2 separate regions of the Homo sapiens genome follow, and region 2 is linked to region 1. The links come from fine-mapping of genetic effects on gene expression. A gene starts in region 1. The other region holds a variant in brackets. All regions are shown on one strand. Distances are from middle to middle.

Region 1 (8,501 bases):
TGTTCTATACTCTTTTCAAGTTCTTTTCCTGGAGTGTAATTTTATCTCTTAAGGAGAAATCACGGTACATTTTGAAATCAATTTTTTTCCCCTTTTCAACAACTGTGATAGTTAAAAAATGCTAAAAAGTAATATTCTTAAAAGTATTTCCAATAAAAAGACAAACACTAGCATTAAGTCAGCTTTCAGATCTTCAAGGGAAGGCACTATGTTATCTTTATGAGGGTATAAATTATTATTATTGCCATATTGGTTTATGTGTATGGATAGTGAATATAAGTGAATTTTATATAAATTAAGGACCAAGGTACCATTTTTAAAACTATCTATAAATTTAAATTTAGGCAGTTATTTGAATCCATTATAGCAATAATACAAATGAATTGCCACTGCACCCTATTGAGAAGCTTTGGTTTCTGAAGGTTATGATTAGTCTGTATTAGGGATGTATTTTATTCTGAGAGTAAGGTAAAGCAGCATTGATGGAGCCTTTCCAGTGAGGGATATTATATATGAATGTACACTTCCATGAGCAGAACTTGCTGTGTGGAATACAAAGTGCCTTGCTAAAGCCCAAACTTTTTTTTAAAGGCATTTTGTTTCTCCTTCGCACTCTGGCCAGAGAAGTAGCTCCACAGGGTCCATTTGGATACTAAATAGGATTAGGTAAAGAGAAGACTTTAATTGGCTTGCCAGTTGTTTTCCTGAGCCTTACTTGGGTATGTGAAAAATAGTGTGTCTGACTCTGTTCTGAACAGATGGATGCAGAATCCTGGCCACCAACTGTTCATATCCAGGCTCAAATAAGCTTCCTCCAAGGTGGCTGCTTTCCCCAGGGGGAGCCCACAGCTGGCCGGAAATGGGCACTCCCTTGCAGCAAGCTGGTGACTGCAATTTTACAGCCCTGTTTATGGAAGCTGTTTGGGTAGAAAATCATTAAGCTACCTTTCCTGCTTCCAATCATTGTAGCCAAAAGTTAAGGTGCCAGCACTACTCATAATCTCTGCTAGTTGATCTCTGGATGGTGTTGTTATCAGTTGAAATAGGAAATAATAGTCTACCACAACGAGTACATGTTGAAATTATGCCTTTGAAAACATCTTGCCATTAGACAAGCAACCAAACAAAACTCCTTCATTTCAGATGGTGCACATTGATTTTGTTTATGTAATTGATATTGACTTTAGTCTTCTAATATTGATATGGTTTGGTTGTGTTCCCACCAAATCTCATGTTGAATAGTAGTCCCCATAATCTCTGTGTTTCATGGGAGAGATCCTGTGGGTGGTAACTGAATATAGGGGTGGTTGCCTCCATGCTATTCTTGTGATAGTGAGTGAGTTCTCATGAGATCTGATGGATTTATAATGGGGGGCTTTTCCACCTTTTGCTCTGCACTTCTCCTTGCTGCCACCATGTGAAGAAGGACATGTTTGTTTCCCCTTCCACCATGATTGTAAGTTTCCTGAGACCTCCCCAGCCATGCTGAACTGTGAGTACAATGAAACTTCTTTCCTGTATAAGTTACTTAATCTCAGGTATGTCTTTATTGGCAGCGTGAGAATAGACTAATACAAATATTATTGTACTTACATTCTTATTATGAGGGTACTTAGAAACAAAACTGACATGTCATATTTTCCATTATGCATTCTTCTCACAGAATGCAACCTATAGATTAAAAATATATTTAAAAAATCAAGGCCAGAACATCTAAATATTGTTCTCTAGGAGTGAAATAGTCTAGATACACGGTAACAGTCACACAGTATATACTTGTTGATTAGCAAATTGTTCACACATCTTTGAACATTTCTTAGCTTCTTTAAGTCTCAATTTCTTTGCCTATTCCCAATGCTGGCACAGTTCCTGGAATATAGTAGATGTTCCATAATCACTTGCTGAATTGAATTTATGTAATTACATTAGTTTTGGGAATAAACATAAAAAGGTGTATGAGTGCATGTGTGTGTGTGTGTCTTTGTTAACAAAAAGGTATATATCTTAAAATTCCTAGCAAATTATTTTAATAATATACACTTGGCAACTGGACAACTGTCATATAGAGATTGCATGCTCCATTACAATCTGTTATATTTACATTGGCTATTCTGAAACTAGCAATTTAGTGTGTCTTCTTCCTGATATTCATATTTGAAATAGAAATTCTTGGTCCCATGAGCAAAACTACTTGAAAATTCTGCAATTTCATGTTGCTTAAATGTGTCTGGGGAATCTCTAAAGTTGAATAAATGCCTTAGGAAATCCACCTACAATATCAGGATATAGGCGTCTAGAAGCAGCAAATCAGTTCTTAGGAAACAGAGAAAAGTGACAGAGCCCTCTGTACTTCGGAATTAGGACTGGAAACAATGTTTTGAAGGAACTAAAGGGAGACAGGTGCAGACCAAATGAATTAAGGACACCAGGGAGCCACAGGAGACCAGTAAGGAAATGAGAGGGAAGAATGCTAGAGAAAATACAGCATAAAGAGGAGGTGGTAGAGAATTTCTAAAAAAAAATGATTACAGGGACTGCTGAATTGCCAGGAGAGAAACAAACTCGGCCTCCTTTCATGAAATCCCTAAGTATCAACTCTCCCTTTCTGCCAGTATCTTCAAGAAGAGTAACAAAGGAACAGCAAGAATGAGAGTGAGATAATCATGCTTTTAAATTCATATTCCATTTCCTTGGTCATTAGGGTTTGTCCATGTCCCATTTGGCCAGAATTCCCTTTTTGTTATGGGGAGTTCTTTTCTTAATCGCTGGTTACGGAAACACCCAGAGTATTTCCAGTCATTGGAGAAGTGACTGGCCAGATGTTTCTTTTTTTTCTCCTTCCAGAACTCTTTGGTAAGGATTGAGGAGGTATCCTGAAAGTCTTCCTTCCACAGTTCAGGGTTTGGGCAGTTCATAATGTGGAATCTTTATTTAGGATACTTAAATCTATATATGTTTATACAAATAACTTGTTTTTGTTTTGTAGGAGGGTAGTGGGTTTTAGGAAGGTTTCGTTTACATATTTGTGGCAAGACACAGGTTTTATACCCATCCTTTCACTACTGCTTTCTCAACAGCCCAACAGAGAGCCGGTGATAGAAGCAGTTGCTATGCCCCTACAGAGCCTGGTTGTCATCTTTTGTTTCTTTGTTGGCAGGGCGGTGGGGCGGGACGGGAGTGGGAGGGTGTTGAGCCGCAGGGATCCAAATGATTCCTGCCTGAAGCTGAAGACCTTGTTGGGAAGGGACGATGGGAATAAACGTGCTCTTGATTCCCTGATTCTTCCCCCTAGAGTGTTCAGCTCTTTGTATTTCCTCCCCTTGGTGGTGTGATGGTCTTACAATGCTCCCTCTTTGCAAATACCTATATCAAAAGCTGGGAAAATGGGAACACACGGTTCAGAGAACTCCCCCTGGCGTCACTCTGTACTACCTCTCTTTCTGAAACTGAATCTGGTCCCCCTGCTCAGGAGCACAGAGACCAGCCCGGAAGCCGACCTTGGGCAGCTGCCGCCACCCAGGGAAGGGAACAGTTGGAAGCTTTGGTGTTCGCCCACCGCGCCAAGAGGAACTCTTCCCGGTAACTAGCACCAGCCACGACTCCAAGCCTGCCTTATTGTAACCTCTAGCGGGTTCCCAACTCGGCAATAGCTTCTCGCTCTCCTGTCCCTGTTCTTGCGGAGGAAAATTTAAAACGTGCGTGCACATATACGCATTCACACACGCCCTTCTTTCTTTACTTAAAAAAAAAAAAATCAGTAAACGTCCTTCGCCCAAAGAATGTTCGACTCTTCACGCTCTCTTTTCTTTACCTAGAGGTCAGCAGTCCCTTGGGAGCACACGCGGTGCTCCCTAGCTGCTCTGCGCGCCCCCTACCTGCCTACGGCTGGGGTGGCACCGCGGGGCAGGAGGCCTGGGAATCCGCTAGACTCCTATTTCTCCAGTTTGTGCAGCTCCCCTGGCTCGGCACTTGGTATCTCCCACGGTCTTGCTCTCTGTGGGAAGCCGGAAAGAAGACTGCTGTGGGCGTCGCCGCCACCCCTCCCGGAACCAGAGCCTGCTCTAGCGTGCATCCAAGCCTCCTACTTCAGACTCACATCTGGCCCAGTCGGACAGATGTTAGCCGCTGGAGAGTGCCTCCATGCGAAGCGCCCCAAGTCCCGAGCATGCCCAGTCGGACTACTAAGGCTTCTGACGCGAGTTTCTGGGCGTGCAGATTCCGCTTCTCCGCTTTTTCGAGGAAGCTGAGGAGGGTTGGGAGGGAGGGAGGGATCCAGGGCTTGGGGCAGCGCGCTGGGTTCGCCCGAGTACGTGCCCTGGTGCCAGGCTGGGTGAGGGGCGGAGCCGTTTAGGGAGCCCAGGAACCTGGGCGGCCAGGCAGGGCAGGATCCCTTAGCGCTCCCCTCTTCCCCCAACCACCTTCAGGTGGACGTCGTTACTGCTGATCTGATGCGCCGCCAGTAGGCTGCATGTGGCCGGCCGGCCTTGGCGCTCTGGGGTCACACTGTCAGCAGGACGCAGTCGGCGGTGCACTCTCACCGACAGACGCACGAGAGCTTGTGGGTCGCTTATGCACCGCATTCACGGGCTTTTGGCTTTTCTGGAAGGCGGGGGAGAGGAGAATAAGAAAAGGAAACCAAACAATTTCTCTCCCCCCGCCCTTTTTTTTTTTTTTTTGCCAAAGTTATACTGGCAAAAGACTTCGCATTCTAAGTCAGTCCTGAGGCTTTGAACATAGAAGCAGTGATTGTGCTCCTGTGTGTGCGCTCGTGTGCGCGCGCGTGTGTGTGCACGCGATGTTTGTGTATGTCATGACTAGGTAACACTGTCCCAGGCTGATCCTGGGGTTGACAAATACTCATCCGAACCCCCCACCCCACCCCTCACCCTCAGGAGAAAGTAATTAAAAAAAAAAAAAAAAAAAAAACATCGAGTGAGTCACCTGGCCAGGCATCTATCCACTGTAGTAGGAAATCTAAATTTTGTTGATCCATATTTCCTTCCTCTGCTTCCATATCCAGCTTTCTCCTTCCCCTCTCCACCCTATAACACCCTGATCTTTCTCATTGCGACTTCCCTTCCTCTGCCCGATACTTGCTCCTTAAGCCCTTCTCCTCTTTCTCCTCCTCCTCCTCTCCCTCTCCTCCTCCCCCCACCTCCCTCCACCTCCCATCTCAGCTGCGGCTAAAACCTGGAGTCTTGGGGAAAAGGAGAAAAAAAAAAAAACCTCGGCTGTGAAGCTGTCAAACCGGGCATGCTCAGTAGACAGGGCAGGTTTTTTGGTCTCGAGTAGCGGAGAAACATTTTTTGCACCACCGCGACCAGCCTTAGAGCGCGGCGGCGGCGGCCACGGCAACATCAGCCCAGCCATCAGCCGAGCAGACGCCCAGCACCCGGGAGCGCGGCGAGCTTCGGCTCAGCCCGGAGTTCACCTCCGAGTGCCCCGGGGGCTGAGCTCACCCCTTCTGCTCTCTCACACACGAACACTCTCTTTCACTCACACACACACACGTATTCACACTCTCTCGCACACACATAGGACCCTGGGCGCAAGCACCCTTCTGGCAGCGGTCGTCCGCTGGTGCAATAGTAGCTAGGTTCGGTTCCTGCCTCCGGCGGCCGCCGGTTTAGAGCACCGCTGCCAGCAGCCGGAGGAGAGCAATGCGGGGGCCCGAGCGGCAGCTCGAACAGTAATGTGGATTTACAGTCGTTTCCCGCAGGAGTCGGCCGAGACGCCCTAAGTCCCGGGCACTGGCAGCGCCCGGCGGAGCCGAGCACCTGGCGAGGGGGCGGGGGAACAGCACCTGGGGACGCCGCCGAAACTTGCGCTTGGAATAGGTAGGTGCGTTTCTCCTGGCTCCCACCCCATTCCTTCTCGCTCCCGCCCGCCACCCCCAACCTTCTACCCCAAGGACTACAGGCGAACTTCGCCCCGAGGCTGCAGGCGGCGGATGGCGGCTCCTGGCTGTTAGCGGCCGGTTGAGTCCGCTCTGGGACTCCTGCCCGAGGTGGCAGAGCCTCCGCATCCTTCTTCTCCCGGTCTCCGCCGGCCATGGGGCTCTGGACCATCTGGGGCAGAAGGGAGGTCGGCCTTGTTCGCAGTTCAAGCTTCCAGCGGGCCCTGGGGACGCTGCCCTTCGAGGGCTCGCTGGGCTTCCCAGGCGGCACTTTTACCAACCAACTCCTTCAGTTCTGAGAGGGAGCCTCCTCGCCTCGGCTCTCGCGCAGAGCCCAGTCACTCTAACAAGTGGACCTGGGTGCTTGGGGTGAGGATGGGAGGCTCGGTCTAAAAAGAAAGAAAGGGGCGCTTCTCTGGCATCCCTCCCACCCTGGAGCGTTCGCCTGGGGCTCTGCCACTGGGGTCCAGGTCCTGCTGTCTCCGCAGAGAATATGCCCAAGGGCTAGGACGCACTTTAGTACCTGTTTGCTTCTGAATTTCTATTTGAGCCTCACTCAGGGAGCCCGGGTTCCCGGGGGAACTGCAGGACCTCCTAACCTACGCCGCCGTCGAGGGCCCCACCCGATGCGTCCTCCCTATACCTTTGTCAATCTTTGTCAAAAGAGATAGTCATTACAACCCAGGCGGTGCTCCAGGAGCCGTCGGTGTTGACTTTAACCATGCGCTCCAATGTGCGGGTTTGTGTGTTTCCGCATTTCATCCAGAGACTTGGTCCCCGAGATTCAGCAACGGCCAGCATATCTGCGAGCGCCAAGCACCCGCTAGGCAGGCTTGGGGAAATGTAACCTCACTTTCTTCCACTCCATAACAGGAGGATTGCCAATTTAGTTTCAGGATGCTTTGCCTAGAGGCGGAGAAGGGGAGATTGTTAGCGCTACTTGGTGAGTGGATGTGTTTGCAGTCAGGAGTGTATTTAAACATTTCAGTGAACCCGATGCAGTCAGTTGTTTACAATTGCGGAGACAGAGGATCTCACTCCACTAGTAGATGTTTCCACGTCTGTGTCGCCACTGGGAGAGTAGGGGCGGGGGCGGGGGCTGGTTTGCAGCTCGTACTCGCCGTCGGCAGCTTCGGGTTGAGCAGATCTGCATCACTGCTACTGGCGATATGCTAATAGGGGTAGAAAAGCTCTACATCTCCAATATGAAGCAATTGGTCAGTAAACGTCCTGAACTTAACCGTTGTTTTCCTGGGATACCAACCTGGAGGTGTTTTTGAGGTGGCCCAAAGAAATACAAAGAGAAGTTCTCAGTGCTACAGAAAGGAAATTAGTAGCCATTTGGTTTTAAAGACCAAAAGGAAACGAAACATCCCAGTGCACTCTAATAGGTACTGTTAGATTAGCGTTTAATTGATCGCGTTTGTGACGAGTAAGTGTCGCAGACAGCTTCCTTGAATTTTAGACTCTTGTTCTATGATTATAATTAACAAGCCAGGTAACAATGTACTGTGAGAATCAATTGCTACTCTTAACGTGTTTGAGGAGAACATGGCAAATGTCTGCTCTATTATATTTTTTGGCTGAAATAGCCCAGTTCATCTTCCTAGTCCGAAGTCTTCTGATCTGGAGCAGTAGATACTCCAGTGTTACCAAGAAAGGGAAGAGTCTAAGAGGGAAAGGCTTAAAAAACAAAATTAATGAAAAGGCGATCCACACCTTTAACTTCTGCTCCATGATTACCCAGCATCTGCTTGCTTGCTCACCCCCGCTCCTTGCTCTTCATATCTGCAACGTGGGGAAAAATGAATTTTCATAAGGCATAGTAAGACCCTCAAAGTACATAACTGGAGAAACAGAATCCCAATTTTGCCATTTTAGTTCAAGTTCATAACACTATTTTGTGATGCATTAAATAATTTACTATGGCAAAGTTGGGGTTTTTAAGAGTAATTAAAAGCTTTCAGGTATGACAAAATAATGTTGAAAACTTTTCATGATTAAAGAAAGTCGAAATATGCATTTAAAAAGGGATCAGGTAATTCCTAAAATAAATCCATGCTCTAAATATTATTTAAAAGTTTTCAGGTTGTTCCCCAGAATGTTTCTGAAAAACAGGTGTTTCTATAAAACAACTCTATGAAGAAATGTTAACATTTTCATAATAAAACTAGTAGAGTCCAGTCCTGAGAACAATGTCAGCTATACATAGCAGAAAAAAACCCCACAAATATTTTTGCATACATGAAGTAGTATTTTCCATTAGGTTTAGGTTCCAATTATGAATTAGGGACAGTCATGTCATTTGACAAAATATACAGTGAGGCTAAAGGAAAGAATGCTTTGTAGAATCATTGTGCTGTAAAGGTGATTAAGATTTCAAATATTCAAACGTTTAGGTGTATTAAAATAAAATTGTATTATACATAACTATCATCACATTCAAAGGCCTAATTCAGTCTGAATACCCTAGAATTCTCAGTGTTTCAATTCAGCTATTATATGTGTAAATAACACCGACATAATCATAGTTTCCCTCATAGTCATTGATCCTTTCTGATACCTTTACCAGAAAGATTCTTGCTGAAGCAGAACAGTCTAGCAT
Region 2 (8,501 bases), 88 kb before region 1:
AAAAAAAAAAGATACAGGCCGGGTGCAGTGGCTCACACCTATAATCCCAGCACTTTGGGACGCTAAGGCAGGAGAATTGCTTGAGGCCAGGAGTTCAAGATCAGCCTGGGCAACATAGTGAGACCCTATTTCTATTTAACAGAAAAAATAATAAAAGTAACAATAATAAAATTTAAAAATTACTCAAACTGTGGTGGCGTGCATCTGTGGTCCCAGCTACTTGGGAGGTTGAGATGGGAAGATCACTTGAACCCAGAAGGTTAAGGCTGCAGTGAGCCATGTTCATGTCACTGCATTCCAGCCTGGGTGGCACAAGGAGACTCTGTCAAAAAAAAAATTCTTCCATAGGAAATCTGGCATATCCAGTGTGGGACTAGAACCTGGCATATACTAGACACTTACTACTTAATGAGTTGTATTGTTGCACTTCCCAGCCCTATCTCTAATAGTTTTCTTCAGAGATGATATATTAGGGTAGTTTAGTGATTGGGAACTCAAGTCAGATAGAACTGTGTCAAGTCCCAGTTCTGCCATTTATGACAGAACTGTAATAGTAACTCCATTACTATTACAAAGTTTAATAATCATTTTGTGCTTTACTTTTCTTACCTGTAGTATGACAATAATAATAATACTTATAAGATTTGTTATGAAAACAAAATATAGTGTTGCAATATAAAGTACTTGGCCTATATGTTGCAATGTAGTACATTTTAAGTTTTGTTTTTTCTTAATTCTAAGTCAAAATAATGTTCGAGATGATGGATATGCTAATTATCCTGATTTGATCATTATGCGGTGCATGCATGTATTGAAATATCACATTGTCCCCTATGAATATGTATAATTATTATGCATCAATTAAAAATAAAATTTAAAGAAAAGGGAAAGTGATTAAGTAATCAAAACAGTGTAATCTATAATAAATAAAAGGCACATAAAATGCTATGATTGTGCATGTTCATGATTAAACATGATTAAATAAACATAAAAAAGCTATATAGACACCTCACCTTTTTTAGACTTCTTAATCTTAAAAATGGTTTCATTATTTAGTTTATAATGCATATAGTACTTTGTTGTAACTTTATTACTAAATATCACTATTTAGTTCCACTTTGACAATAATATCAATCCCCAAAACACATTATTTGCAAGCATCTAGTTTATGAAACGTGCGTGATTCATAGATAATTAAAGTTAAAATGAATTACAAAGTAAATTTTTAAAACTTCTATAGTTGAGCTTCACAAGCCACACCTATTGCAATATCCTTTTTCCGTCATTTACTTCCCTATTCAGAATAACACTATCCAAACTTCTTTTAGGGCATTAATATTATGTAAGTCTAAACGTGAATGTGGAAGTACTCAATGGATTAACTTAAGTATCTTGTTAATTTGTATTAATTATCTTAATTTTTTCTATTCTCGTTTTCAGGAGATTTGAATAACAAAGTAGCATGCATTGATTAAAATTCTAAGTTGACAAAAGCTATTAATTTAGGAAACATACATTTTATGCAAAATGTGGTGTCACGCAAAGACTTATTTATTTCAGTGTAGGATAATCCAGTATGGTGATCAAGATGCATACAGATCATATGCCAGCTTCAGCTCTGTAATATTTTTCTTTAGGGAAAAATGAAGAGCTGTCTTCAGAAGCTGCAATTTCAGGCATTCTTTATAAACACTGTGAATAGTTGCTCAAGTCCAGTTAATGTATTTAATATCGACAACTATCATGACTATTTGGATTGCAAAAGACTTCTTTTATTTCATAACACTTTCTTAGTCTAAATCACTGGTCTTTAAACTGCAGTCCATGAGTCATATCTAGTCTGCCAACCAATTTTTAAACAAAGTGCTATTGGAACACATCCTCCCACACTCTTTCATTTATGTATTAGCTACCTCCTTGGCTTTATGATGGCACAGTTGACTAGTTGTGACACAGACAGAAGGGCCCTTGACAGAAAAAATTTGCTTAAGTCTGGTTTAAATCATTTGCACCATTACGTCATTTCTCTACTACCTTGAATATCTCCAGTCCAGTGGAAGCTTCACTAAGCCAAATTTGATTTAGGGGATTCTTTCAACTATGGTAATGTATTTTCACTTTCTTTTCTCAGTTAAATTCTTTTAGATTTAGTATAGACCCACTGGCCACATTTAATAACCAAAGATCCACTCCATGCCTAACTGTTCTCTTTGAAGTTTCCTAAACTTCCTTTAAACAAATTTCACAGTCTCCTTTTAATTCTCATTATTCTAAACCTTTCATGCATGACAATTATGATCACCCTACCAATACAGAAGTTCTCTCTCATTTCTTGGCTCTAAATTATAATAATATCCTGTTTTTCTCTTTTGTTATAGTCTTCTTTGGCTCATCTTCTTCCTTTCACTTTCTGTGTGCATTCTCCTAGGCCATTTTATATTCTCATGCTATGCGTATCCCTAAAAAAAACTAATTTATTTTCATAGCTTTAACTATCACATCTATGACTGCTGACCCCTAAAAAGACCACCAAAATATCTTGTTGATCTGACAAAGTTGAATGTATTCTGTGTTGTATTAAGAGAAAACACCACCTTGATAGACTTTTAGTAGTGTCTTGGAAGGGGAAGGGAAAGGGCAGATCTTCATACAGTTTTGGGATTTGTCTTAAGGAAGGTCTTTCAAAGAAGGGATCTGCCTGGAATCGGAAAAAAAAGTTGTAACACAGATTTTTAGATTGGTGAATGCAGCAAAGCAAGAATTTTGAAGTGTCCTGATGAGTAATCATTTGATAAGCAAGCAGTTTGCACATTGAGTGATCTGTCATCCTGAGAATGGTGATATTTACCCTGATGAGTAACTTCTTGCCTTGAGCAGGGCAGCTAACTGATCAGCTTATTGTTCAGATAAAAACCTTGTTGCAACTTTATTTTCCTAGGCAATAATGTCCTGAAATAGTAAAGTAATGTTAACCTTGACAGCCTTAGTTCTTGAACTCATTAAGCAGTATGTTTGCAGGAAGTTTGTTCTCACTTCTAGTCCAATAACTTGCAAATAATATCTATAAGATACAGTCTCACTTACTCTAGATGACTGCTATGCCAGGTCCTATTTTCAGTTTCATTTTTATTAATGGTACTAATATACTTCAGGAATCCTAGGTTTGAAGCCTAGGCATTATATTTAACTGCTCTTTCAAAATGACTCCCAGTATTCAACCAGTCATCAAGTTTTGTCTGTTTATAATCTCTTTGATAAAATCCTCCAAAAAGTGATGAGACTAGCATAAGGAGGAAGTAATGAGCAGCCAGGGCTACTTCCTCAGATAGACTGAAGGAAAAGGTAACTTCCTGAATGAAATAATGGTTATGTATGTTAAAGCAGTGTCACAATTACTCAATTACTTGTTAGCCTGAGTCTAGGGTTA[C/T]ACAACTTCCAGAACTGTGATGTAAAAAGAAAAGGTTAAATTGCAAAACAAATGATAGGAGAGAGAAATTTGGAAACCACTAGCAAAACTGAGTGCAGTGCTGTGAAATGTCTTCATCAAGATCTACAACCAGTTAGAAGTTAGAGGTCTGGTATGGTTTGAATGTGTTCACCAAACTTCATATGTTGGAAACTTAATCCCCAAAGTAACAATGGTGGGAGGTAGGAACTAATAAGAGGTGATTAGGTCATAAGGGTTCCACCCTCATAAATGGATGAATGTTATTATCATAGAAATGAGTTCTTTTATCTCTAGATGGGGCTTATAACAAAAGCGAGTTTAGCTCCCTCTTGCTGTTTTGCTCTCATGCTCTCTTGCCCTTCCACCTTCCACCATGGGATGATGCAGCAGGAAGGCCCTCACCAAATGTTGGTGCCATGCTCTTGGACTCCCCAGCTTCCAGAACCGTGAGTCAAATACACTTTTATCATTTACAAATTACATGGCTGTGTGGAGTTAGCTCATGCCTGTAATTTGAATACTTTGGGAGGCTGAGACGTGAAGATGGCTTGATGTCAGGAGTCCAAGACTAGCCTGGACAACATTGAGAGACCATGTCTCTATAAAAAGTTTTTAAAAATATTTTCATTGATTAGAAAAATACCTAATTTGAGGTATTCTGTTACAGCAACACAAAATAGACTAAGACGGGGTCCCTATAAAGTCAATTTCAGTATATAATCAAGGTTGACTAATAAGAAAAGAGTAAGTATTGGCTGATTGAAATAATGAACCCTTACCATCTTTGTGAAGCATTCAGGAATAAAAGCAAAGTATTGTTGCTCTGTTCTAACTTTCTCTAGAGGATAGAAACCATACGACCATTAGCTGACTATTCTTCCTCAAGAACATAAATTCCTTCCTTCCCACTGACCACCAACATTCTGATCATGGATAGTTTGATATTTGGGGAATTGTGGATTCTGGTTCCCAGTTGGCAATGAATTCTTCACCACAACAAACAGGCTTGAGCCTGTTTTCGTGATTCTGTGAATGTCAGGTCTTTCTGATAAAAATTAGTATTCACCAGTAACTAAAAAACAGATAGAGGCTATCTGTCCTTAACCCTAAAAACCTGGCTATGAGGAGAAAACAATCCTCAGACCAAATTCCAACAAAGGTACTCACATTTCTTCACAACCTGTTTATAGATAAAAGAGGCCCCTCTTTCTATCCTTAAGTCCACCTTGCATAAAAAGTTTACTCTAAAACAAATGCAATTGCATTCTTTCACCTAAATGGCAGAATGTGGAAGCTTGTCGTCCTATCAAGGGGTAAGATTTTCAGTGAAAAGGAGATGCAAGACCAATAAGTTTCAGTCCTGGAATGTACCTATGACACAAGACTTCCGATTTCCAACACCTTGCAGATTTCCAACACCTTATTCATACCAATGAGGTTGGTCCTCTTGCACTATTCACAGACAATCACATATCTAAAATACTGTTATTTTTTCCAATCAAAAAATATTTTTAACATTCCTGTGCAAATTGGCCAACCCTAAGTTGATGTATTCATTTAAGATACCTCACCTGCTAATTAGCCCCAAGTGTTGCTTCAGATAAAGACATTTCATATGCTAATTAGTTACCCCTGGGATTTTAATTAGAATTAACTTTTTAATGTTATTCATCACATTGTTTATACAGCCATGATGTATTTTAAATTCCACTCAGACAATATAACTCAGTAAATGCTGCAGGCCCATATATGTATAAACATCATGAAAGCCCACTCCATACTCCATAGCCTGGCTGGCAGAACATAGAAGAACTACATTTCAGACAAGTGGGATGAGCCCAGCCTGTTAGCTCTGCCTCTTAATGTATAATTGCACGTTCTAAAATTTCAAATATGTAGCATTATCTTCTTCTTCTCTGAATTCTCAGAGCACTTTTGGATTTATTATAAGATCCATAAGGAAAGGATCCAGTTTGTTTTGATCACTGCTCTGTTCGTGGCTTACAGAATCGTTTCTGATGAATGAATGTATCAATGAATAAACACATGAATGTGTAAGCTCAGTGATCCCAGACTATGACTGAATCTCTCTGAGCCTCTGAAGTTTCCTTATACATAAAAAAGGAATAGTAATAATACTTACTTTATATTACTAATGTCATATTCTTAACTCAAATGCACTTTACATGGTGCCACTACATTAATTTTCTTGAAACACTATTTTATACAACCTTATCACTGCACTTACCATATTGTTGTATAATTATCTCTTTCTGTGTCTGATTTTCCCACTGGACTATGAATTTGTTGAAGGCTGACACATGATATTTTATATTGTGTCCCCAGATCTAGCACGGTGAAAAGCACATATTAGGTCTCAATGAATGCTTGTTGAATGAATAAATCTGCTTGAGTCATTGCAATGGTTGAAATGAATATAACCATAATTTATATCAAGTATCTGAGTACCAAATTTAATTTTATACTTATTTTCAAAGTTTGCCCACTGTAAATATTTCTACTTTATTATTAAATTGTACCATGCTAAAAAGTTAGGTTTTCAAAGGAAATTAATTCCTCAGAGTAAGTTAACTGAGCCAGTTGATTTGTGGCTATGTGTACAAAGGCAAATGAAATAGAAAGTTGAGTAATTGCTCTGTCAATTTAGTCAATATTGACAGCCACTCTGGAGCACACAGTTTACTTTTTACTTAAATAGTACAGATAATTGTCTCAAATCTAAAAAGAAAGAATGACCCTGCATTTGTTCCCCATATGACATAAAACTGGTTACTGTGAGATGGAAAATTAAACCATATAAAAAGGTACTAGTATGAGGGTACTAATTCCTTAGGCATCAGAAGTACTTACTTATAAAGTTCTTTTCCCTTTAAGATAGCTACATGGTATGACCCTTAGGGAAAACGCCTCTGAAGACTCTATAGTTTTCAAGGAAAGGCACCAAAAAATTGAAATACATTTCCACCCTAAACACATTACTGACAATTCCACATCAACAAACAAGCTTAATCCTTCTTTAGACATATTTGTCTTGCTAGTTAAAAAAAAATTACTAGAACCATGACATTCCCAGTTATTTTGGAATAACTCTAAAATAAGCAGAGACCTTTAAATTCCAAATACTGAATTTTTAAATATGAGCAAAAGCACTTGAAAATAAACATTTATATTTTCATTTATAATTCTTCCAAATTCTAATTATATTTTCTGCATTCTTATCTGCATATGATTTTTACTTAAAACCTAGATGATGGGTTGATAGGGTGCAGCAAATCACCATGCATATGTATACCTATGTAACAAACCGGCACATTCCGCACATGTATCCCAGTACTTAAAGTTAAAAAAAAAAAAAAATCTGAAATTATTAAAAGATGTATATTTTTGCTTATTTTAAATTCATTTTTATTAATTGATAGTATCACCATTCATTAAAATTATATAAATTGATTTAAATATTAAAGCTAAGCCTATGTAAATTAAATGCCATTTGTTAGTAAAAATTGAATTTTGCTAAGAGTTTCAGGTTGATTTAGTTGCAATTGAGCCCTAAATTTAGTGCTCATCTTCTTGGACTCAAACATAAATTGAAAACATTATGGGATTTTATAGTTCTTATTGTCTAATAATAGAAACCAAAAATATTTGTCTACAGAGACAAATGTTACCAGCATTTAATTATTGTATGAATGCTTTGAGGAGCATGGCATAGACTTTGAGAAATATGACAGGCATCGACCCTCATTTTGGTTTTGTCTTGCTCCGTTTTGTACTGCTATAACATAATTCCACATCCTGAGTAATTTATAAACATTATAAGTTTATACCAGGCATGGTGACTCATGCCTGTAAATTCCAGCACTTTAGAAGGCCAAGGCAAGGGGATCACTTAAAACCAGGAGTTTGAGAGACCAGCCTGAGAAGCAAAGCAAGACCCCATCTCTACAAAAAAATAACAAATAAAATAAATTATCCAGGCACGGTGGTGTGTGCCCATAGTCTCAGTTACTCAGGAGGATGAGATGGAAGGATTGTTTGAGCCCAGGAATTCAAAGCTGCAGTGAGCTATGATCATGCCACTGCACTCCAGCCTGGGCAACAGTGAGGCTGTCTTTAAAAAAAGATAATGGAAAGAAGTTTATTTGGCTCATGGTTCCGGAGACTAGGAAGTCCAAGAGTATGACACTGACATCTGGTGAAGGCCTTCATCCTTCATCATCTCATGGCAGAAGGTGGGAGGGTAAGAGTGAAAGAGTAAGAGAGGGCCAACCTCATTTTCATAACTGCCCACTCACAATAACAAACCCACTCCCTCATGACCTAATTACCTCTTGAATGTCCTACCTCCTAAAACTACTGCACTGGGGATTGAGTTTCCAACACATCAACATTGGGAGACACAGTCAGACCATAGCATTTTACCTCTGGCCCCTAAAGTGCATATCTTTCTCATATGAAAACGCATTAGCTCCACCCCAATAGCCCCAGAGCCTTTACTCATTCCAGCATCAACTCAAAAGTCCAAAGTCCAGAGTCTCATCTAAATCAAATATGCATGAACACAAGGTATGATTCACACTGAGGCACATTTCTCTCCAGCTGTGACCCTATGAAATCAAAACAAATCATCTGCTTCTAATACACAATGGTGGGACTGTCATAGGCTAGACATTCCCATTCCAAAAGGGAGAAATAAGCAGGAAGAAAAGGGTAACCAGTCCCAGGTAAGTCCAAAACTCAATAGAGAAAACAACGTTAGGTCTTAAAGCAGGAGAATAACTTCATTTTACTCCATGTTCAGCACCCTGGGCACACTGGGGTGGAGATCGGGCCCCCAAGGCTTCTGGCAGCCCTGCCCCAACAGCTTTACTGGGCTCAGTCCATGCTTCAGATCCCTTGGGTTGGAGTTACATGCCTGCAGCTCTCAGGCTGGTATTGCACTCCGGTAACTCTATAGCTCTGGGGTATTGATGGCGGACTTACTCCAACAGCTCTACTAGGCATTACTCTAATAGGGACTCTCTGTAGTGGC

Evidence for each region. PIP is the estimated chance that this variant, and not a neighbour inherited with it, causes the effect.
Region 2: its variant is fine-mapped to the expression of TENM1 in whole blood (TOPMed, PIP above 0.99).

What each region holds. Positions count from the first base shown.
Region 1 is chrX:125,201,140-125,209,640 of GRCh38, reverse strand. TENM1 (teneurin transmembrane protein 1) reads left to right here and starts at 5,329. Exons shown (of 35, transcript NM_001163278.2): 1 at 5,329-5,837. LOC124905211 (a long non-coding RNA gene) reads right to left here and starts at 5,181. Exons shown (of 2, transcript XR_007068314.1): 1 at 4,942-5,181; 2 at 1,521-4,599.
Region 2 is chrX:125,288,931-125,297,431 of GRCh38, reverse strand. No RefSeq gene overlaps it. Among named protein-coding and RNA genes, the nearest start is that of TEX13C, 27 kb to the left of the region's middle. The variant C/T (reference allele first, on the strand shown) is at 3,428.